Linked DNA regions of Homo sapiens: region 2 is linked to region 1. Evidence: fine-mapped expression QTL. A gene starts in region 1. The other region holds a variant in brackets. All regions are shown on one strand. Distances are between the middles of the regions.

Region 1 (8,655 bases):
CAGTCTGAAGAAATGACATCAACAAGGGCAGGGACACAGTCAATCTGGTACCCAGTGTCACGCTGTGTTTGCTGAATGAGTAAGACTAAATTAGCTTCAGCACACTTATTTATAAAAAGTAGAGGGCAGGCGCGGTGGCTCACGCCTGTAATCCCAGCACTTTGGGAGGCCGAGGCGGGCGGATCACGAGGTCAGGAGATCGAGACCATCCTGGCTAAAACGGTGAAACCCCATCTCTACTAAAAATAGTAAAAATTAGCCGGACTTGGTGGCGGGCGCCTGTAGTCCCAGCTACTCGGGGGGCTGAGGCAGGAGAATGGCATGAACCCGGGAGGCGGAGCTTGCAGTGAGCCGAGATCGTGCCACTGCACTCCAGCCTGGGCCACAGAGCAAGACTCCGTCTCAAAAAAGAAAAAAAAAAAAAAAAAAAAAAGTAGAAATGCTAACCACCTGCCAACCCCAACAGGTTCCTCTGACAATCAGATGTAATGGGTGGGACAAGCTATACCAATGGATGACATCACTATCTCATAACAAAAATATCAGTGCCAGAGAGAGTATTATAAGGAAACTGACACTCAGTAAGGTTTAATGAGTAAACTAGATTAGCAACTTCACATTCACTGAGTGATTTCACATCCAGTGTGGCATCTAGTCCACATTTTAAGTGTAAATCCCACTATGAATAACTTAAAGGAAATCATTTCATCATTTGTTCTGAACCTCTGTTTCTTCATCTGTAAAAAGAGAATGCGGGCCGGGCGTAGCGGCTCACACCTGTAATCTCAGCACTACGGGAGGCCAAGGTGGGTGGATCACCTGAGGTCAGGAATTCAAGAGCAGCCTGACCAACATGGTGAAACCCCGTCTCTACTAAAAATACAGAAATCAGCCGGGCGCAATGGTGCGTGCCTGGATCCCAGCTACTGGGGAGGCTGAGGCAGGAGAATCGCTTGAACCAGGGCGGCAGAGGTTGCAGTGACACGAGATGGTGCCATTGCACTCCAGTCTGGGTGACAGGGCGAGACTCTGTCTCAAAAAAAAAAAAAAAAAAAAAAAGAGAGAATGTGCTCCATCTCTTCTGTTTGCCCCCTCCAAAAAACACCCTACCCTCTCCTCCCTGCCCTGTGTCCCCGAGTATAGACCTCATGCACAGGTTTCCTGGCTCTCCAGCTTCCAGATGGGTCTGCCCAGCAGGAGGCACCAGCAGAAGTTTGGTGGGAGGAAGAAAGAGAGGTCAGGGTATTTCTTCCCCCACCTCAATCCTTGACAGGAAACTGGGGCTGCTTCCCTTGAACAAAGTTATCAGCAGGTCTCAGGTGCCCTCTCCACACAATTCAGATCACACCCTTCACCCCTTCCGGCCCAAAGATGGACACCAGGTTCTGGAGTTACCAGCTATGGGATACTAAACCTTCACTCCCGATTTCCCTACCCACACCTTTATTGAGTTTCTCTCAGATCATCCTAATTTAAATGTGCCACCTATTTCCTGCTGAGATCCTGGATTATACAGTAGATATCACCACCTCATAAGGTTACAAGTGAGAGACCATGTTATGACTAGATGCTAGGCACTGAGCTATAGTTACTGTTACAACAATTATATTATGCAGAAATTGTTGCTCCCAATCTGCAGATAAGGAAGTCGAGAGGGTGAGAGAAATTAAGAAATTCTTACAAGCACATACAAGAGTTGAACAGCTAGAACTGAGGCCTTAACCTCCAGAACCAGAAACCTTTCCATTTCTATTATCACCATCGCGGTCAATATTTTTCTTACCACAAGTTTCATCATCGCCGTCATTCCTACATAACAAAATAACACTCTCTTGCGAATGAGTTTATTTCTACTGTTGGACGTGTGGTTAAGAGTGGGAGTTCTGGAATGGGATCAAAGTACAAGGCCTGACTTGCAGGAAGTGTTATCTTGAGCAAGAAACTTTCCTCCACGAGCCTCAGTTTCCTCCAGTAAAATGGGGATAGATAACAGGGCTTCCTTCACAGGGTCGTGGCGAGGATTCAATGAGATAACGTTTGCAAGGCAATGGGCAGGCAGTAAGCACTCAAATCCGACAGGAGCTACTGTCACGAAAAGCGGGTTTGCAGCCTTGGCGGCTTTATCGCCGCCGAGGACTAGGGAGGCGGGCCAGGACATGGGGACCCGAGGACCTGAAAGACTGGAAGATGCCCGCTGCCCACCCCCGGGCCCACCTGCTCCTCCAGTCTCTCAATCTCCAGCTGGTTTTTCTCCTCCTCTTCGTCATATTCCCACTCGTACTCCCCGGGGGAGCTCTCCGCGGAGGAAGCCATGGCGTACTCATCCCCATCGCTCTCGCTCACGCCTTCCTCCTGCTGATCCCACGCTGGCCCCATGGTCTTGTATGTCGCAGCGGCCACAGCCCGCGATAACACCTTCCTCCTTGTCCTAGCCGCCTTAACCTCATCCTCCTCTCCGTCAGCCTTGGGCCCAGCCTTGGACTCAGCCTCGGGTTCTGAAGCCGAGGTTTCGGCCGCAGTCGCCATCTTGCGCTTCTAATGACTCTCGGGTCTTCCCGCGGCCGCCGAAGACCCGCTGAGGCAGAAGCTGCCCGCGGCGCGCGCCTTATCAAAAACCCGTTTTCTTGCCATTGAAAGAGAAACTGGGAACTTAGATAACAGGAAAATCTCCACATACACTAAATTCACATTATTTTATACCCTGTAAAAGCTCCCACCAGATATAAAAACTCATTATAATGGCATGCGTTCCGTCACAACTTCGGACAGAAGTTGGGTCTTTGGGCAGGAAGTGGAAGCCATAGAGGAAGTCATGGAGCGAGAGTGATGTCTGTAGTGAAGAATTTGGCGCCATCTTGAGAAGGTCAAAGTGATTCTTCGATTAAATGCCTTACTTATCGCCTAGTGTGACCTGGCGCTTGGGTTTACTCTCCCCAGCAACTGCGCCTCAAACGCAAAGAAAACTGCAGGTCCTCGGGGAAGGATCGATTTCACCATTCAAGAGAAAAATCCATTTCCCAGATTCCTCCCCTTTATGTAAACGTCTGGTACCTAGTAGACGTTAAATACACGTGAGTTTTCCGGTTTTATAAGATCACATACTGCAAACCAACAGTAAATTACATTAATACGCATTTCTTTAGAAATTCTTAATTGCTAGGCACTGACATATAAATTGAGTTTGCTGTTGTTTTAGAGAGAAAAATAGACATATTCATTTTTTTTCAATCAGGACATGGTATTCGTTTCCTTCTTAAGCTTCCCATTTTTGAGGTAGGAAAGTATTGGTGTGTGTCTCTATCTCTACCTTGCTCCCTCATTAGCAGGCTTAATGGGCAGGAATTATGTCTGTTTTGCTTTCCGTTGGATCCCCGGGTCTAGTAGAGCGCCTTGACACATAGTAGGTACTCGACACAGATGCTGGCTTCATGATGAAGCAATTGTCCTCGAATTAATACAAAAGGGAAGATTCAGACTCAGCGAGCCGGTACCATTCGTCTAGGGACACACAGCCAGGAAGGAACCGAACCAGGATTCTAACCCAGGATTACCCAAGTTCGAATTCTAATTGAACATAAGTCCTTAGCGACCTTGGACGGACTTACTAAACTGCCCTGAATCTCGGCTTCCTTAGCTGCAAAATAGGGTTAGGAAAAGTGGACTCGGTGCTCCTCTGCGCCGCATTCCCGCAGCGGGATTTGTGAAAGCGAACTTGAGCCCCACACTGCAGAAGCCCTGAGGTCCTGTCTCAACCAGAATCCAGCACCCAGGACAAGCCCTCCAGCGACTTCAGACCTTCCCGCTCCCGACCCCGCCCGCCCCCGAGAGGCGTGGTCAAGGCGGGGCCAGAAGGCGGACGCGTGCACGGAGCGGTAAAGCGCAGGCGCAAAGCTTCGGTGACGTCAGAGAGGCGCGCTCCCAGCTCGGAGCCGACTCGCAGACGCGCCCCGCCCCTCGGCGTCGCTCTGGACTGGCGCAGGCGCAAGCCGGCAAGATGGCGGCGGCTGGGGCTTTCCGTCTGAGGCGGGCGGCATCGGCTCTGCTGCTGCGGAGCCCCCGCCTGCCCGCCCGGGAGCTGTCGGCCCCGGCCCGACTCTATCACAAGAAGGTAGGGACAAAAGAGGGACGCGCGGAATGCCGACTCAGCGGAGGCCTGGGCTGGAGGGGCGGCCGCGGGGTTCTGCGCAGCTAGGACTGGGAGCTGTCCCCTCCCACGTCTTTGCCCTGACTCGCTTTCCCTTGCTGCGCAGTGAGGCTCACTGCAACTGATAAACAACAGTTACCGCTCATCGGGCGGCGACTTCCAGGGGGCCCCGCCGCTGGCCGCGACTTCGTGCGTCCCAATTTTAAATTCGCCAACAGCCCAGGAGGCAGGGTCCTGTTGGGACTTGTCTTTCTGAGTCCAGGGACAGACACACCCCCGGAGCGGGCTCCGGCTTCAGCCACTCCGCTGCCCTGGCCAGATGACCTTGGGCTAGTCACTGCGCCTCTCTGAACCTGTTTCCCCAGGTGTAAATGGGGGGCTCTCAGCTGTCCCTTACAAAGGATACTGTGCGTGGAGTCCTGGCATGGTTCCTGGCACATAGGCCCCAGCACGAGGAGACCGTTTCTGTTACTGCTTTAGGAGTGCATAGGGGAGTCAGGCTTGTAACCAACATGCGTAATGTTTTTGTTTTGTTTGGGGGGTTTTTTGGCGGGGAAGGAGGGATAGATTCATAGTCTGCAGCCCCTTGCTGTCTGGTGGCACAAAGTCCCCCAGACGTGAGACTCCCACTCGAGAAACAACTAAAGAATGCCATAAATCAACGTGGCACAAAAGGCCCCTACATTAGATACTATCCTGAGGTCCCTTTTACTTGGAGTCAAAATCCTTAGTCAGATGGGGGGAAAAGGGGACTGGAAGATCGGCGTGCTTACTACTAACCAGTAACCAAACCTCAAGGTTATTAAGGCCTTCTGTGTGCCAGTTCGAATGGATGTTTATTGTGATCTGGCTTCTGCCCTTTCTCCAAGGGCTTCTTCACTCCTCCCCCTCCCGGGGGTGTGTTTTGTTGAGGGTACACCCTGAAGAAACTTGGACTAGCAGCCTTTCAGCAGCCAGGGTGCGCTGCTGCACCAGGGTGATGACAGGCTGTGAAATACGGTAATGGCACTGTTTTTATTTTAAAAGACACATAAACGTACACATTCCATAGCATTGTTCCCTGTGTAACAGTCACCTTAAGGCTTCTAAGAAAGCTTTCCCTCCCTGGGCCATGGTTATTTTTAGAATTTTTAAATAGTAATCATCCTTTGAGGATGGATTTTATTTGAAAATAACAAAACTGCTGTTTGAGCCCAAGTCTGGTGATGTAGGTGGGTGAAAGTCAAGTATTTTTGTAAAAATCCTATGGAACTAAGACATGATTTCACTGATTTTTTTTTCTTCTAGGTATCTCAAATCTGTGAAGTATTGTAGAGGAGACACAAAAGGAATTGGGGGTCACAAATGGTTCTCATTGACATGAGTGTAGACCTTTCTACTCAGGTGAAATTTGGTATTTAGTGATTGCCTGCCAGGTTCAAGATGCTGACCGAGGAGCTTACCATCAAACCAGAGACCAGTACCAATAGAGAGTGAACATGATTTATCTTAACCCTCTCATTTTAGGTTGTTGATCATTATGAAAATCCTAGAAACGTGGGGTCCCTTGACAAGACATCTAAAAATGTTGGAACTGGACTGGTGGGGGCTCCAGCATGTGGTGACGTAATGAAATTACAGGTATGGCTAGTCTTTTTTAATAGTGATAACAATAATCCCTTTAAGTTTACAAAGCACTTGCGCATTTCACTTGGTCTCCATCTTTATTCCTGTGAGATCTCCAAGCATTTCACTTGGTCTCCATTCCTGTGAGATGGGATGAGTCCATGTTAGATATGACTGGAGCAGGGCCTCAATCGTAGCTCTCCTGCTAGGCTAGTGTACTATGCCAACTTTTTCCAAAATAGAAAAGTAATCTCATTTTTGTACTCACTGTATCAGTTTAAATTCTGACTTCAGCCAACTAAAGAGTTTTGTGAATTTTACTGATCAAAGGAAAATCCCAGTGAGCTAGCAGTCCCCAATGAAACAAGAAACACAGTAAATTAAACCTGTCCCCAGATTGGGGGAAACATGAAAATAGTGTCTAGTGCTTTGGGTAAACTGTAGTTGTAGCACCAATCTGCTGCTTCATGGTGAGTGGGCAGCTTGCCAGAGGTCTTCATACCTATCTTGGAATACAGAAACAAAACAGGAGGAAACCACTAAGTGTAATCTGCTGCCCAAGAAAAAAGTATTAACCAGAGACCTTTATTGTGGACTCTGTCAGTGTTTAAAGAGGCCAGATTGCCCCAGCAGCTGTGAGCAGACTTCCACAAATAGAAGTTCATAGCCAAAATGCAGGCCAGAGTCACAAAACAAAAGAATATTGGAGTGGAGGGACATATTTTTCAGCTGATCTTTGTCAGTTGGGCCTGGATAGTTGTCCCTGCATTTCACTTTTCATCACTGAGCTCTTTGAAACAAGGCAAAGTCAGTAATTAATGCCATCACTTAGTGTGGAAAGCAAGCCCAAAGCCCTTGGGGAAGGCCCTGGTGAACCTTCGTGAGTGCCAGGTTCCAGAGGGTGGTCCCAGGACTCACCACTTAACTCTTGTCTCTTTTCTAGATTCAAGTGGATGAAAAGGGGAAGATTGTGGATGCTAGGTTTAAAACATTTGGCTGTGGTTCCGCAATTGCCTCCAGCTCATTAGCCACTGAATGGGTGAAAGGAAAGACGGTAAGGTGGCTCACAAATCTAATGGGTCAAAAACAAGTAACCATGACTTTTTTTTAATATTCTAAATTTTTAAAATTTCTCCTATGCAGATGTTGATTATATTATCATTTCTTCAAATTGGGAATTATGGATCATTCTACTAGGTGTTGTTTGGGTTTTTTTCTTGTTGATCATTTTTATTTTTTTGTTTGTTTGGGTGTTAATTACATATAAAAAAGATCCTCACCTGTCCCTCTAACAAAATAGAATTTAAAAGAAATCTTTGGCTTTCTCTAAGGTTACCAGTGCTCTTATAATTTCTCAAGTCAGAGAGTTGTTATAAGGTAGTTATTTTCTTGTTTATTTCCTCTCATGTTTCAGGAAGGGTTCTAGGTGGCTTTCAAGAATTGGTGAAATAAACTAGCCTGTGTTAAAAGAGGGATTAAATAATCAAAAAGACAGCAAGGGTGGGGGCAAAGTGAACAACGAAATCAGAACAGTGATCCAGGTGGCTGATCGCAAGCCCTCTAAAGGCAGAGATAATAAAGAGCTAGAACTTCTTTTTCATCCCTTTGTCTCCCAAGTGTCTTTCCCTGGTAGCTGCAGAGGTCAAAGGTCCCAAACACAGTGAAGAGCTGGACTTTCTAAAATCCAGTTGCTGTCAAAACCTCTCAGAAAAGCCAACCAGCAAGGCACTCATCTTTGCTGCCCCAAGGGACCAGGTTCAGGGAGCTGAGTCACAGAGGAGCATGCTTGGAAGCTGGCCAGCTCCACAGCAGAGCAGTTTGCCAGGCCACGTGCCACCTGCTTCCTGTGGCTCACGGCCTTCTGGCTGGCAAGCCCCTGTGGGCCAGGAAGCTCAGACCTAACCTGCTGTGGCAGGAGGTAGCTCTGAAGTGATTTGTCAGGAACTGTCCTCAGGTGAAGGGAGAAATGAGACAAGGCACTTTTGCTCCCAGAACCTGGCCCTTAGGGGACTGTGAATTGTGATCAGAAAATGGGAGAGAGGACATTTCTTTAACCTTGAGATCTCCCATCTGAGTTTCAGGAGCAGAACCTGAATCAACCAAGAAGGGTTAGCAGAATTGGGAAACTGAATGATAGACATAGTCAAAGAGTCTGGCTGTTGGGAAATCTGGTTTTCTGTAAGGCAGTGGGGCACTGTTCTACATGGGCAAGGATCTGCCTGCCTCACATTATCCCCCAGGGCTGTCAACCAGACCCCAGGCATCCTCTTTAGTTGATCTGGAGGAGATGCTCCTATAGGCAAAGGGGACACCAAAGAGAGCATTCGGCCTGACTCGGCTGTGCCACTGCCACTGTGCTACTTACCTGAAATCTTCCCAACCTCTCTGATGCCATTCGGCACTTCTAGTCAAAAGGATTTAGGCTAACATTTGGTATGAGGACATCGGAGAAGCTGATATTCACAAAACCAGCATAGGAAATCACTACCTTTTAAGGAAGAGATTCCTGTTACAGGCCACAAGCAGATCCCTAAGAGACTTCTCACAGGTTCCACTCCTGACTTAGAGAAGTGTCTGGGCTGTCTTTGCTTACCCAAGCCAGGCAGTGCAGCTGTGTATACTTCATGCTTGAGAATCCCAGCTGCAGCTTTGATAAAGTGGGAGTCCTGAGAAGACCCTTAGCCGTTTGAGTTATTAAACAGAAATCATCCCCACCAACCCTGAGAGCCTCTTTGGCCTCCCTTTTTTATTGGCTGGCCCTCACAAGATAAAGTGTTGCTAAAACTGCCCATCTTTCCATTATGCCTCTCAGGTGGAGGAAGCCTTGACTATCAAAAACACAGATATCGCCAAGGAGCTCTGCCTTCCTCCCGTGAAACTGCACTGCTCCAGTAAGTCTCTGCTCT
Region 2 (16,121 bases), 270 kb before region 1:
GGTACAGGAAGCACTGCTCTGCATGGAAATCTTAATAGCAACTGAGATTATTCAAAGCCTGGCTGGGTAGGATGCCCTTGTTGCTGGTCCAGAGGGACCCAGGCATCATTGTTTTGGCACTCCACCTTGCAGCACAGGTAGGTCTGGTGCTGCCCAGAGACTGAAGGATCATTGGTAAAATTGTAAGTGAATGTGTCTGAGAATCTCCCCCAGCATGCTGTGCAGTAATGCATAATTTGTATTCAGTTGCTTCCAAGGATCAAATAGCATTCTTTGGTTGTACACAAATTTGTCCCAACAGTGTTGAAATTCATCATAGTTCATGATCTTCATGCTGGCATGTGGACTGTTTTTTCTGACACCATCTGTGAAGCTCCTCTTGGTAATCTGCTTCCCAGAAGTAGTAGAGGTGGGCAACGAAGATGGTCAGGGTGACCTTGCCATCCTTGGCCAGGAACTCTGCCACGTTCCCTGCATACTCTGAGCAGGGACTCCAGGAGATGTACCAGATGACCAGGTAGTCCTGGTCACGATGCAGCCTCGAGTTGCAGAACCAATCTACGAATCTCATCTCTGGGTGGTGTTCAGGCTTGGAATAGACCTGGCCTCCAAAGATCCTTGCGTCCAAAGGGGGCTTTGAGGGGTCCTTCTTTGTTTTCATTTTGTAGCACAGCCAGGTGGTGTTCCAACCTGAGAGGATGGGTCTGTTTTCAAAGTTGTAGTAGAATGTGCCTGGATACATCCACTCCATCAGGTTTCTGATCTGAGGCTTCATGTGCAGCCTTCTTGGCAGGCTTGCCCTGACCATGATCTTTGTCTGAAATTTGTCCCCTGTCCCTACCTCTAAGATGTTTCTGCTTAGCTTCTCTGACAGTGAGGGCTCGAATTTCAGCTGACCCAGCATTTCTTCGTTTCTGAAGACAAGGTGGTTTTACCATTTAAGCTTCTGATAAGGATGAAATAGGTTGACCAATGTGGAGTTCCCTCTGGCTGCCTGTCACCATCCCTAAAATCCCATCACAAGTCAATCCTTCCCAGTAAGGCACTGGTGCCCAGGCAGTGGGCTAGGTATTGTAAACTGCCTGCCATCCACCAGGCTATCATCTGCCAGCAGGCAAGGCTGAGAGCCTCCATTCCACCTCCCTGTATGGAATTTGCTCCACAACCGCAGTCCCAACATCTGGAGGCAAACTGGAGACTTGTTCACTCATCTTGATGTTGCTCTGAAGGTGGAAAACATCTGCATAGTGGAAACCAGGGAAAAGATACCCTGGATCTGCCTCTTTCTGTGTTAGGCTTCTGGGCCCCACGGGACCCCCAGGTATTTGGCTGTGTGTTGGTGTCTTAGCGTCATCCAGTGTCCAGCACAGACTTTAATGCCCAGTTGACTATGATTTCTAAGTGAAGGGATAAACACAGGAAGTCTGTGGTCACAGTGGTACCAGCCAAACCCTTAACAGAAACCTGGTCCGGAAAAGAACTACAAAACAATATGAGGAGGAGGGAGGCATCTGGTTCCTTTATTTTCTGGCTGTAATAAATCAGACAACAGGGAAAAGAAAAGGCCAAGGGAGGTGGAAGCACTTGATAGAAACCTCCTTTGTCTGTGATTACTCTTTTTTTTTTTTTTCTGAGACAGGGTCTCACTCTGCTGCCCAGGCTGGAGTGCACTAGTGTGATCTTGGCTCACTACGACCTACGCCTCCCAAGTTCAAGCGACTCTTGTGTCTCAGCCTCCCGAGTAGCTGGGATTACAGGCGTGTGCCACCATGCTCAGCTAAATTTTTTTGTATTTTTAATAGAGACGGAGTTTCTCCATGTTGACAAGGCTGCCCTCAAACTCCTGGCCTCAAGCGATCTGCCCGTCTCAGCCTCCCGAAGTATGGGGATTGCAGGCCTGAGCCACCGCGCCCAGCCTGTGATTACTCTTAATGGCACAAGTAAAGAACTGTGTCTCCTCCACTTCTAAACTAAGTGACCTGCGACCTCAGTTTCCATGTTGGTGAAATGAGGAAAAATCCCACCCTCCCCAGGTTTCATTAAGATAGGAAAAAAATGTGAAAATACTTTGGAAACGGTGTATTATAAAAGTGATTGTCATGAAACTCGATGATGATGATGGCAAAAATAATGTCAGCTTATGATAATGTCTTCATTCATTCAACCAGAAGTTATGAGCAGCTTTTCTGGGCTAAGCACTGCTAGGGATACAATAAGGTGGCCAAAGTCCCTGCCATCTTGCTGGATCCAAGTAGGGGCCAGACTTAAGGCCACTAAATACACACATAATAATATGATTTCAGATGGCAGTAACTAGTATAAAGAAAACACTAATACAAAATAGGGATCTGATAGGCAGCGAGTAGGGATGGAGGCTACCTTAGCATGGCCTGTCTGAGGAGATGGCATTTGGACTGAGACCAGAAGGAGGCGGACGAATCAGTCATGCAAAGGGAAGAGGCAAGTGGGCCCAGAAACAGCAGGAATAGCAAGTGCAAGGGCCTGAGGTGGGACCAATCTTGGCTGTATTGTTGCTGTTGATCTGTTTGTTTCATTTTGCTTGAGAGGCAGAAAGGATCACCTAGCTGGAAAGCAGCATGAGATGAACTTAGAGAAGGAGGCAGTAGCCGATCACATAGGGGTTTTGATGCCATAGTAAGGGCTCTGGATTACTGTATTCTGTGATAAAAGCTCACTCTGGCTGCTTCCTACAGTGTGGGTTGAGGGAGCAAAGACAGAAGTGGGGAGGCCAGCAAGAAAGCCGATGCATATTCAGATGAAAGAGCCTGGCACCTGCTAAACGCTAAAGTGCAGCAATCTCACTGAATCCTCACAGCTGCAAACCTTTATCATGCCCTTTGTCATACAGAGGAGAAAACTGAGGCTTCGGAGGCATTGAATAGCTTGCCCAAGGTCACAGAGCCTAACTCTAACCCTGCCCTTAGCTGACGTAAATAGCAGAGCTTGGATTCGAGCCCTCGCAGTCTGATTCCTGAGCCTACCTGACCCGGTGTCATAAACATCAAAGTCCCTTTGAGTCAGGTGGTGAGGCTGGGGAGGCCCCCAGGAGGGCTTAGTCCTTCCTGAGACTCTACCTCTTTGGATGGATGCTGCAGGAGCCACTGCCCTCTAAAATGCTCTCTTGAATCAAGGACAAACCGTCAGACCTGGTCCTGTCCTGCCACTACCTGTCCTGGGTACCAGTGGAGGTGGGAACTCATTTCTGCAGACAACATGAATTATTTTATTTTTACAAAGACTTTTGCTGAGGCATAACTTACTATAGTGAAGTGCGTTCGTCTTCAATGTACAGATAATTGGGTTTTTACAGATGAACCCCCATTCCCCACCCCTTACCCCGTGTAACCACTATCTAGGTCAAGATGGGGAGCATCCCTCACTCATATTCAGGACAATCTTTAAGAGTAACATTTATGCCCCCAAACAAAGCATGTCTGCCCTACAGCAGTTTTTGCCAAGATCTCCCGCCTCCCCTTCAGCCAGGATTCTGCTGGAAACTCCTCAGGGGAGCCCAGACCCTGGGCAGAAATTCTTTACAGCAGATTAGCACCAAAGTGCTTGTCAATAAACTAAGAAGTGAAGCAGGGTGGCTTGGTGAATGCTCAGGTCTCTGGGGTGATGGTGTTTTAAGAGTGACTCAGGTGAGCATTTTCACACACTTCTCATCTCCCAGCAGTCAGTGAGGCAGGTGGTCTCCATCTTATTTGCAAAGAGGTCTCAGTTTCACCATCTGTGAAATGGGGGAACAGGAAGGGACAAACTTGAGGAAGTAGTCCTTTCCAAACGCAAAAACCCTAAGATTCTCAGGGTTGTGAGAAAGTGACAAGCCCATTCAAATGCAATTTCCTCCTCTCAAGGAAAAAGCAATTCCTCAGACTCCCCGACTCCCACATCTTCAAAATTTGACATGGGAAAGAGAATATGTTCTTGTCCTCTTCTCTCCAGGGAAGGGTCTCTACAGAGGACATTTTGCATTTGCACATTTCTGGGGAAAACAGCAGGAGCTTTCAAGATAAACATACTGGGGTTTGAATCCCAGCTCTGTCACTTACCAGCTGTGTGGCATCGGGCAAAGTCACTTCACCTTTCTGAACCTCAATCTCTTCACTTGTGTATGGAGATAGCAATACCCCTACTGTGAAATCCTTGTTGCAAGGACTCAATGAGACAATGAAACTGAAGAGCTTGCCCAAAACTTAGACAAGGCTGAATTAGTATTTGCTATTATTACTGCTGTTGCTGTTTCTGCATCTTTGAGCACAAGGTAAGTGTTTTATAGACCTGTGCTTCTTCCTCCCTCACCAACTCTCATCTTGCCCCCACCTGTCTATTGACTAGATACCTAGAGCAGTAGCTGCCTGACTTGTCTGGGGGTATCCCCATATCCCAGGGGGAGAGACTTCTGGAAGATTCCCCAGGACAGAACTCAGGTGACCCCCAAGGTCAAACCCCAAGTCCAAGTGCTTGGCATCTCATCTGTATAAAGTCCCCACAGCACAACCTGCAATTGCAGCATTAACATGCCTCTGTTCCTCTTAGGTTAATATATGTATTATTTATAGGGCTTTATTATGTGTTCAGAGGGCTCCCCTGAGAAATATAATTGTGCATTGGGTGGTACATTTGAATAATATTTACAATTAATTTCAGACAATAAAGCAATGCACCGAGGCCTCTGTGTAGCAGAAATGGGCCCTGGGTTGGTTTCCCACTAACCACTCCCCTGAGAAAGCTTGGGTAGCTTTTAAATATCTTTCCAATAGTCCATTTCTCTCCAGCATCGCTTCTGTTTCCCCAGTCCAGATTCCACCATGGCTCATCTGAGGCTGCAGTAGCCTCCGGGCTTCCCACTCTGCCCCTCTCCAACCTGTCCTCCCCAGAGCAGCTAGGGGCATTGTTCCAGCATGCAGATCTGAGCATGGCACTCCCCTGCACATGGCTGCCGCATCTCAGGGTGAAGGTCTCCCCCACTGCCTGGCCCTTCCACTCCACCCCCACCTGGTCTCACTCATCCTACACCCTCCTTGCAGCCAGCCCCCCACCCCCACCACTTCCCGTCACTGTGAGCATTGCTCCCTCTTGCATCAATGCCACTGCCCCTGCTGTCCCCTCCACCTGGAGCACCCTCCTCCTGCACCTCCTTACCACATCCGTGCCCACCCATCTTCCACATGTCAGCTCAAGTGTCCCCTCCCCAAGGAAGTTTCCTTAGTCTTTGGACAGGATCGGATCCCTCTATAATGTGTGTGCAGGCCTGGCACCATGGCTCACGCCTGTAATCCCAGCACTATGGACGTCTGAGGCAGGAGGATCACTTGAGCCCAGGAATTCAAGACCAGCCTGGTCAACATGGAGAAACCCTGTCTCTACAAAAAATAAAATAAAATAAAAAATACAAAAATTAGCTGGGTGTGATGGCATGTGCTTGAGGTTCCAGCTACTCCGGAGGCTGAGATGGGAGGATCACCTGAGCCCAGGGAGGTCAAGGCTAAAGTGATCGTGCCATAGCATTCCAGCCTGGGCAACAGAGAAAACATTTCCTGGGGTTGTTTCCCATTGGGGGACGTGTATAATTTTGATTATTGGCTGTCTCTCTCATAAGTCAATGAATGAGCTCAGGAGGACAGAGGCTGTGTACGTCTTGATCATCTCTCTGTATATAGTGCCTACCACAGAATTAGCAAAAGAGTAGCTGTTAAATACATTTTAATGGAATGGATGAATGGGTGGATAGATAGATGGTTATGTAAGTGAATGGGTGAGTGGATGGATGGCTAGGCGAATGTTGAGATGAATGGCTGGGTGAGTGGATGTCGGAGTCAGTGGGTAAGTGGGTGGATGAGTGGATGTTGGGGTGGATGGGTGAGCTCATCTTGGGATAATGGGTGGGTGGATGGGTGAATGGATCTTGCGGTGAATGAGTGGGTGAATGGGTGGGTGGATGTGTGGGTGGATATTAAAGTGAATGGATGGTGGATGTGTGAGTGGATATTGGGGTGAATAGATGGTTGGATAGGTGGGTGGATCTTGGGGTGAATGAGTGGGTGAATGGGTGGGTGGATGGGTGGGTGAATCTTGGGGTGAATGGGTGGATGGGTAGATCTTGGAGTGAATGGGTGGGTGGATAGGTGGGTGGATGTTAGGGTGAATGGGTTGGTGAAAAGGTGAATGGATGAATGTGTCACAGGAGCATCTGTCCTTGGGCCACCTGATGCAGTGCCAAAGAGTATAGACCTGACCATGAGGAGGCCTGGCTTTATGTCCCTTATCTGCTAGGGTTTACTATATTATCTTGGGTGAGTAACTACCTCTTTCACATCCTCAGTTGCTAGAAAAGCAAAATAAGTGAAAAGAATTTTTTTCAAAATGCAAATTTCTTGGAGCTCGAAGGTTTGAGAATGGCAGGTTGGGGACTTCAGGGCTTCTCCTGCTGCCCACAACATAGCTCTGTGACTTTGCACTGGCCGCCTCACCTCTCTGAGCCTCAGCTGCTGTTCTGTGAAGTAAGTGAGGAAGGCAAAAGGGAGGTGATGGCAGGAACCCCCAGAACTGAGCCACACACTCTTGCTTCAGTCTCTTTATTCGAGAGAAACTTTGTCCTCAAAGGGAAGAAGTAAGAAGACCCCCTGCTGAATTATTTCACAGTAGAAATAGTAGATTCCTCTCTGGTCCTAGATACCACCCCCAGCAGCAATTTTCCAAACCCAGGATTTGGTAACCTTGGGCCTAGGGCATCCCAGCCCCAACAAGAGCATAACATGTTAGGGAGGAACGAGAGAGGGAGGCAGGGCAGGAGTTGAGGAATCACCGACCACTTTCATCCAAACCAGACACCACCTCGTTTTGCAGAGTCCTCAGGGGAAGCTCTCAAAACCTCAGTTCCCTCATCTGTGAAATGGGAGACATCTGGGCAAGATGAGTTTGAAGGTCCCTTATGGTTTTCACGATTGGATTCTATCTTCTCCCACCCATCCAGGCTCCCAACCCCACCAGAGCTGACTCTGGGGTCGAATTTGAGCCAATCCCCTCCCTTTGTCAGTGCCCAGTTTCCTCACCCCTTCTGAACCTTGCTGCCAGAATCTCTGTGCCTCTTCTCTGGAGAAGGACCCAGGAACCTGCAGGGCTCTGTGCGCTCTGGGAATTATCTAAGGCTGGCAAAGGCATCCCGGTGCTTGAGGCCCTTCGTGTTCTTGCTCTTCCCTTCTCCCTGTCCTTGCTGGCTCAAGGGTCAGCTGGAGATGGTTCTGAAATCAAATTCCTCCCACTCTTTGGACTTCCATTCCTCTCCCCTTCTCTCTTCTTTCTTTCTTCCTTGTCTTTTCCTTCTTCTTCTCCCCACCCTCTCCTTCCAAGGGCTGAAGAAGTTGGGCATTCAGGCAGCTGACCTGATTCAAAGCCCAGCTCCATACCTCACTAGCTGTGCAACTCTGAACTAGTGAAGTCTGTTCTTGAAACAGAAACTCACTTTCTGCACCCCCCCCCCACCTTGCTATGATGGTCCCCTTCTGCCAGGGCCA[A/G]TTTGAGGTTTCAGTGTTTGTGCCTGAACCATCGTAGGTGCTTCATGAATGCCAGATCCCTTTCCTTCATCATCATGCTCTGGGACCTTTCTGTCCCCTCTCCTGTCCCTCCCCTATCCTCAAACACCATCTTCTTTTCTTTTCCCTCTACCTCTTGTCCTCACGATCCCTCAGCTCCCCCACCCCACCCAGGAGGCAGGGCTAAGTAAGGCCCCATCACTGAGTCCTGGGCCCAGAGAGAAGGCTCTGGGCACTAAGTATGTTGGTTGCCTGTGCAGCAGTGCAGGTGAGCACACTTTGCACACTGCAGGGACGATATATGCATGACCCATGGAGATGTTCACATGAAGCTGTGGGGACAAGACTGTATGGGATGTTAAGGCTGCATTTAAGTACTTGACAGGAACCTAAGTCAGAACAGGAAGACCCACAGAGCAGCCAGAAAGAGGGAGGCCAGACTCTAAGGAGGAAAACAGCCGGTTTGAATTGTGCTCCTGTTTATCAGCTTTTCCAATGACAACATGAATTCCTGGCTCCCCCATCCTGGCCTGGACTGCCAGAAGCCCAGGAAAAGCAGCATCCTACAAGCCAGGAGGGCCAAGGCGCTGACGACTGCTGCTGTGACCCGGGACAGGTCCCATCCCATCTCGTGCCTCAGTAAATGTGGGAAGAGGGGAGATGGGGGCCACTGAGCAATATTTAAAGCTCCCTTTTTGCTCTCAAACCGTCTATATTCAAACTCTTTAAAGCATTCAGAGGCTCCAGCTTGGGATCAATTCAGAGCTGCCTTGTCATAAGCATTAAGGCACAATAAGGGAAGGAACAGTTTGTCTCTTAATGAAGTGTGATTCCAAACAGCCCATGGCCTCGGGAACTCGCCCAGCGCGGGGTAGACATTGCATCTGTTCATTGCATCTTGTTGGAGAATCAGCTTAACAATGAAGGGACTTGGAAGAGAACAGAATGTGGACACTTAGGAGCCAAAGGGCCTCAGGCCCACAAGGGACTGCCTCCTGCCAGCTTTCCCTCCCCATTGCCTTGATCTCTGGAGACATAGGAGGTGGGAGCCACGGTAGGAGGCTGTTAATGGCTGTTGAGGGAGCTGGAAGCCAAGTGCATTTTCTCTGCCATGTTGCATCATTTTTGAAAACTATTTGCAAAGTTTCTTAAAGGCCATTAAGATGTTCATCCTCATTTGCAGAAAAATCAATATTTATGGCAAAAATCTCCAAACTTTTTAAGTCCTTCCCAACTCTGCAGCCTCATTTGAGCCAGGCAAACTGAAGTTCAAATCCAAGCTCCGGCAGAGACTAGCTGGGTACCTTTGGGCAAGTTACTTAACCTCTCTAAGCCTCAGATTCCTCCTATGTAAAAGGGAAGTTATAACCATACCTAACTCAGGGTTGCTGTAATGATTAAATGAGAAAACATATGTAAAGTGCATAATATAAAAAGTGCTAAATAAATGTAGGCTATCAATATACTAGAATAATCTCCACAGATAAATTCCAAATAGAAGAACAGAGTTTCTGGAGCCAGACGGAGCCAGGTTCAGATCTTAACTCTGCCACTGATTAGCTGTGTGATGCTGGGCAAGTTACTTTCCCCATCTGGGCCTCAGCTATGTCATTTGTAAATGGGGCTATGACACTCTGTGGCCACAGGGACGTGTCAGTATTAGATGAGAAAAGCCATGCCAGGCACCTGTATCCAGGAGGTATTTGGTGTCTGCAGCTCAGAAACACAGTTCAAGGAGTCCAGCTCCAGACTCTGTCTCAAGTGACTGAGTCCTCGGACATACTCTTCTTCCCAGGGGACTCTCCGGAGTTGCTTCCCAAAGCTGCATTTTGGACCTGTCTCCAAAGGCGTTGAGGAAATTAACCAGAATGAGAAGCCCCACCACCAGTGTTTTATTCTAAGCACCTCCAGCCAGAGCTGAGTGGATTAGGAAAGGCAGAAAAAAATCCCTGTGATGGGGTGAGGGCTGCTGGTGAAGATGCCTGCCACAACCCCACCCCCAGGTAAGAGGGGCAAGGTGAGATCAGGGGCTGGCACCACCCTGACGCCCCAAATAGCTCCAGCCTAAAGCACCATCAGCCTGCGATGTTCTAGGGTGAGCTGCTCCATGCCTGCATCCTTTAAAGGTTCTTTTCTCCTTTCTCATTTCTTTGCCAAATCTCAAGTCCTCGTTGCATCCCTCACTTGTCTTGCCCTTGCAAAGAGCCCACAGGACCTCTCAGGACCAGTTCTCTGTCTTCCTAGCTGATCCGAAAGCCAAATTCATGGCCTATGGAGTTCATGGGCTGATATGTCACCTTCCTCTCCCAGATCACCTATGCATTTCCACATACTTTAACACAGAGCAGTGACTTGAAGGTAGGGTTTTCTGGCCAGCTACTGATAATATATATACAAGGGCCAAGTGTGATCTGCATCACACTGGGTTTGCTCTGACCCCCTCACTGCTCACACCAGGAATGGACCTTGGAGAGTGTCATTTCTGGGGCACACACAATAGGCAGCTTAATCCCACCGCCCTATGCCAATCCCAGTTCATGGCAATGCTTTTGAGAATTCTTCCTTTTTTGCTTTGAGTCAGTCAAGGCTGGCCTCCCAAGAAGCATAAATTGCTAGTCCAAGGCTGTATGGAACACAGCATGTTCTGTCCACTAGAAGAAAGGGGTTCCAGGCCCTAGATTCCCAGCATAAAACACTGTTCATCCCATGCAAAATGCAGTGAAAATTGGTGGATGCTAAAGAGGTTCTTGCCTTGATCTTCAGAAGACATATCCTTGGGTGTCCCTGGGTTGAGAGAGTCCATTGAGGGGTTCCACAGTGAGGATCAAAGCATGCCGGTCTCCCTCTCATTCATAGAAGTCCTCTCATTCATTGATGACATCTTGGTAAAGCTTCTATGGCTGGGGTAGGAAGAGTGGCCTGTATCTTCACTTAGAGCATTGACCAGGCGAGAGAAGAGGGCCACCTTGAACTTCTTGAAGTCCTGACCCATGAAAACATACAGAATGGGGTTCATGCAGCTGTTGGCAATGGCAAGGGCAGTGGCCAGGGGCAAACCCAGGCTGAAGACAGAGCCAGGCATGGCAGTGTGGTGGAGCTCTAGGAGGTTGAGTGTGTGGTAGGGGCACCAGCAGAGGAAGAAGGTAATGATGATGGTCACAATAATCTTGAAGGGCTTCTTGGTCTTGGCCAGGCGGTTGCGCTGCAGTTTGCACACGATGGTGAGGTAGCAAGCTGTGATGATGAGGACTGGGACCAGGAAGCCACAGAGGAAGCGGGTGACAGTCACCACCATGTGCCGGCTATACCCCACAGGGTCCATTTGGGAGTGAGTGGGCCACGAGGAAGACCCAGGTGTGGACAGGCTGAAGTTGTTGAAGCAGGATATTTTCCCATGCAGGTTGGCTGTGTCCCGGAAGACGAGAGATGGGGAACTCAAGAAGAAAGCCAGGACCCAGATGACCATGCAGGCCATGTAAGCCAGGCGAACGCTGCGGTGGTTCTGGGACCAGACAGGGAGGAGCACAGAGATGCAGCGGTCAGAGCTGATGATGGTCAGCAGGAAGACGCTGGTGAACATGTTGTGGATGAGAAGGAAGTTGCTGATCTTGCACATGGCTGTCCCGAAAACCCAGTGGTAGTCCATGGCGGCATAGGTGATATGGATTGGGAGGAAGACGTTGAACAGGAAATCTGCCACTGCCAGGTTGAGGAACCAGACCATGTTCACTGTCTTCTTCATCTTGAAGGTGGCAATGATGATCACCAGACCATTGCCCAGAATCCCGAGGAAGCAGACGATGCTGTAGACCACCACCAGGAAGATCCTGGTCACCCTGGCTTCCAAGGGGGATAAGTCCTCCAAAACCACAATGGAGTCTAAATAATCAGGGTATTCATCACCGTAACTGATGGAAGTGTTGTAATCTTCATCCTCCATTCTCTGCAAGAGAAGACAGGGACCATTAGAGGAACCCTAGAGTTGGCTTTAAGAGGTTGACCAATACCAGCAAGACCAACAATGTTCCCCCTGACTCTGAGCAAGTCCAGTTTTGTGATTTAACCATTTCCTTCTTTGCTATTTTATTTATTGAACAAATGCCTCTCTGGTACCTCCTACATGCCAGGCACTATTGCATTCTACACTCTCTTAATCTTCACAGTAACTCAATGAGGTAGGTAGGTTATGAGCCTCAACTTACAAATGAGGAAACTGAGTCACAGAGAGCTTATGTCATTTGCCTGAAGTCCTACAGCTAGGAAAAGGCAGACCTGTGATTTGAATCCAAGCTTCAGAGTCTATCCTTTTGACAACCATGTTTTCTGTCTGCTTGGGGCCCTGTCTTCCTCTAGAGCCTAGTGGGGGAGACAATTGTTCATCAAAAAGTCCCTCAAATAATGGGAACATTGCAATAATGCTAAGTGCAATGAAGAAGAGGTACATGGTGCTGTGAACTTGATTCCAACATGCTTCTAAAACCAAGTGGACAGCCTTGTTGTGATCCCCCTGTGCACCCAATCTGTCAGTGGTCACTGGTGCCCTTTGGAGTTCAGACCACAAGACTTCCTCACCATTCACCGTTATGTTGTCTGCAGCTCTCCAATGTGAGTCCTCAGCCAATCAGTCCCTGTACACAGCTAGAAACACCTGTAGGGAAAAAAAAAAAAAAAAAAGCAGCAATTGGATCCAGGTCTAAGAACCAGAGGGTTGAGTGGACCCAGCCAGAAATAAGATCTGTTGTTCTTATTCCCATTTTACAGAGAAGGAAGCAGAAGTTCAGAAAGGCTGTTATTCAGCCAAGGTTATGCAGCCAGGAAGGGATGGAGCCCCTTGAACCTAGGTCAACTGACTCTTCCCAGGTCAAGTGCTGGACTCTTCATTCTAACCACTCCCCTCTCCCAGCACATCCCTAGCTGACAGCTGGAGTCGGGCATGAGTAAAGGAAGACACAGAGGAGGTACATGGATGGCTCAATCCACTACCAGGTCGGGACTCAACTCCACTACCAGGGCAGGACCCACAAAATACTGTTTTAGGAAGTGTGAGCACAGAGAAAACAGGAGAAGACCCACACAGAGTACCTGCTATGTGCCAAGAACTTTTATTCTTTCTTGTTATTTAGTCTTCCTTGGGACTTTTCCAGGCAGGTGTTATTCCTTTTGTGTTAAGAAATAGAGAGACTGAGGCTCAGAGAAAGAAGCATCATTCTTGCTGGATATTCTCTGGGCCCTATGGGAACCATGAATGAGATGCAGGCTCTGAAGCCACAGCAGTCTGGTGTGAAGACAGACACAAATATATCCACTGAGCCTCCGCTGTGCAGACAACTTAAGTGGCACTTTAAACAAGCCCCATAACAATCTTGCTGAGTATTTTTCCAGTCTATGGAAGAACAAACATATTCTGAGGAGTTTGCAAGTTTGCAAGATCTTGGAGGCAGTGATCACATGCAGGGTTCATACCTAACCCCGGACACTTATGAGCTGTGTGGCTTTGGGCAAGTGATTTCTCTTCCCTGAATCTCAGTTTTCTTACCAATAAATGGGATTTCTCACCTCACAGAGTGTATATAAGAACTAGAAGCATCAGAAATGTGGAGCATTTAGCTTGGTATTGGCACATAGTAAGCCCTCAATAAATACTAGTGATTGCATTATTGCCTAGAGGTGCACAGCTGATAAGCAGGATTTAAAACCAAGGCTCTGATACCCCAGAGCCCATGCACTTTTTTCTGCGGCTCATGATCTCCCCATCTTGTCAAATGGGCTCCAAACCAGATATTTCAGCTTCACAAGGCTGCTAATCAATGCTTTATTATAAATAACTCCAACCTTCCTGCACATAAATTCATTACTGATCCTTCCCAGCTTAAGGTTATATTTTATTACATAAAAGTCATCTTTTGCTTTTATTAAATAAAAGCCACTTGGAAAATTCCATTGAGGGCTTTGCACTCAGAGGGCTCACAATCAAAGCTTGGGTGTTATCCCACTCTATGCTGGGACAATATTTCAGAAGTGCCCACCAAGGGGTCTCCAAGGGTTTTCTATGGCACTGGAATGCAGAGAGAAGATGGGGACACTGGAGCTGGCCTCCCATGACTGGAGGTAACCTGACAGGTGTGCATGACAGTAGTGGGGAATGCACATTGAGCTCTTGTGTATGCCAGGGACCATGTTAAGCCCTCAGTCCAGATGGTCTCACTTTAACCCCATAAGGGGCTACAGCAGGGCTCAGAGAGATCAGGACCCATGCCCAAGCATGCAGGCAGGGGCTGGAAGAGCTGGGATTTGAACCACATCTGCAAAGCCTGAGCTCTTAACTGTCACTCCACACTGCCCCTGAGACCATGATCTGCTCAGATTGATGACCATCACCAACCTTCCTTTTGGAAGAAATGACCAAGTTGACATTCCCTGTGCCAAACGGTGCAGGCACCAGGGATGAGGACATGGCCTTACTAGGGTCCCTTCCCAAAAGGAGCTCACAGGTATGAGACAAAGAGACAGTGTTGAGGCTGGGGCAAGACTAGAATGCCCCAAGAAGCCCAGAGGAGGGGCTGTTACCCAGCCTGGGAGTCTGAAGCTTCCTGGGGCCAATGGCATCTGAGTTGAGTTTTAAGGACAAGTATGAGTTAAGAAGGTGGAAGGCAGAGAAAGGAGGAAGGGCACGCCGGGCATCTCCCCATCTCTGACCTTCCCCTCCCTCATTGACAGTGGGCTGGGTGTGTGAGTCCCGAGAGGAGGTCGAGGAGGATCTGGGACTCAGGACTGAGTGCTTCGCACAGCATCTGCAGAGATGCAGCCTGAAGCAGATGACATCATGTCGGGCTCTCTGGCTGGGCTGGGAGCAGCTTGGGGTCAGAGGCCATGTTTTTTCATCTTAGAGCTGGGGCCAGGCTGGGCTGGCACAGAATGATGCTGACATCCTCTGGGCATGTCCCTCCTTCCACCCCTAACTCCTCATCCTTCCAGGAATTGAGTGGATTCGTGTCCCCTGTTGGTGCATCGCCCCCACCCCAAGACGCCTCTCTCTCTGGAAGCGTAAGGGAGGCACAAGTCACAGGTTTGCTTTGAGCCTCTGCTCTGTCCTAACACACATCCCTCCTGTCCTGAGCACATTTCTGCTACCAAACCAAGCGGAAGAGCAGACTCTTGGGCCCAGCCAGACTGCCTGCATCCACATCCTGGATCTGCAGGAACTCCCCTGTGACCTTGGGCAAGTCAGTTACCTTCTTTGCAACTCAGTTGTCTTATCTGTAAAATGGGCTTGATAATAATAGCTCCTGCCTCATAAGAAGATGGTTGTGAGGATTAAGTGCTTGGAACAGGTCCCCTTATGGGGTAAGCACTATATTGTTGTTATTGGCATTGTTATTATTTCTCAGGCTTCCACTCTTAACTCCCTTCTAAAATGGTCTTTGCCTGGGAAGGTGGGATGAGGCTAGGAAGCCAGAGGACCAGTGAGTTCCTGGCCACTTGTCTCTCCAGCTGTGGGATCAAGGGCAGGTCAGAAAGGGACACAGAGGCCAGGCACGGTGGCTCATGCCTGTAATCCCAGCACTTCAGGTGGCTGAGGTGGGAGGATTACTTGAGGCCAGGAGTTTGAGACCAGCCTGGGCAACATGGTGAAACCCGGTCTCTACTAAAAATACAAAAATTAGCCAGGCATGGCAACACGTGCCTGTAATCCCAGCTACTCAGGAGGCTGAGGCAGGGGAATTGCTTGAACCCAGGAGCGGAGGTTGCAGTGAGCCAAGATCAGGCCATTGCACTCCAGCCTGGACCACAGGGTGAGACTGTCTTCAAAAAAAAAAAAAGAGGGACACAGGTAAGGATTTTGCTTCTCTAAGCTCCAATGTCCTCTCCTCTCAAGTGGGGGTAAGAACACCTTCCTCGTGTTGTTGGGAGAATCATGTGAAATGACAATGAAGCCTTTGCCAATTGTGAATTATAAAGAGCTGTAAAATTCTAGTTACCCAAATTCCTTAAATCCTCCACAACCAGGAAGCTTATGAAAAAAATATGCGTCACTATATATACCGCTGACCCTTGAACAATACAGGTTTTAACTGCGTGGGTCCACTTATTTGTGAATTTTCTTCTGCCTCTGCCACCCCTGAGACAGCAAAACCAACCCCTCCTCTTCCTGTTCCTCAGCCTACTCAACATGAAAACAATGAGGATGAAGACCTTTGTGGTGACCCACTTCCACTTAATAAATAGTAAATATATTCTCTCTTCCTTATGATTTTCTTAATAACATTTTCTTTTTCTCTAGCTTACTTGATTGTATGAGTACAGAATATAATACATATAACATAAAAAAATACGTGTCAATTGGCTGCATATGTTATTAACAAGACTTCTGGTCAACAGGAGGCTGTCAGTAGTTAAATTTTGGGGGAGTCAAAAGTTATATGTGGATTTTTGACTGTACAGTGAGTTGGCTCCCCTAACCCCTGACTTGTTCAAGGGTCCAGTGTACATAATATGTACATACATATAGTTAACGTTTGCTTGATCTCTCACTGTATGTGCTTTGCAAGACTCCATAATAGCCCT

Evidence for each region. PIP is the estimated chance that this variant, and not a neighbour inherited with it, causes the effect. A credible set is the group of variants that fine-mapping cannot tell apart.
Region 2: its variant is the best candidate, but not a certain one, in a credible set for the expression of ISCU in Th1 cells (Schmiedel 2018, PIP 0.73).

What each region holds. Positions count from the first base shown.
Region 1 is chr12:108,558,629-108,567,283 of GRCh38, forward strand. It overlaps ISCU (iron-sulfur cluster assembly enzyme), which reads left to right and starts at 3,968. Exons shown (of 5, transcript NM_213595.4): 1 at 3,968-4,108; 2 at 5,651-5,764; 3 at 6,693-6,803; 4 at 8,562-8,640. The coding sequence starts at 3,995. It overlaps SART3 (spliceosome associated factor 3, U4/U6 recycling protein), which reads right to left and starts at 2,545. Exons shown (of 19, transcript NM_014706.4): 1 at 2,215-2,545. The coding sequence starts at 2,526. RefSeq lists enhancers at 2,624-2,683, 2,694-2,793, 3,648-3,707, 3,778-3,857, 4,388-4,457 and 1 more and silencers at 4,068-4,187, 5,148-5,197.
Region 2 is chr12:108,281,461-108,297,581 of GRCh38, forward strand. It overlaps CMKLR1 (chemerin chemokine-like receptor 1), which reads right to left. Exons shown (of 4, transcript NM_001142343.2): 3 at 12,129-12,204; 4 at 6,586-11,499. The coding sequence starts at 12,131. The coding sequence ends at 10,381. It also overlaps the pseudogene LOC196469. Among named protein-coding and RNA genes, the nearest start is that of CMKLR1, 50 kb to the right of the region's middle. The variant A/G (reference allele first, on the strand shown) is at 7,539.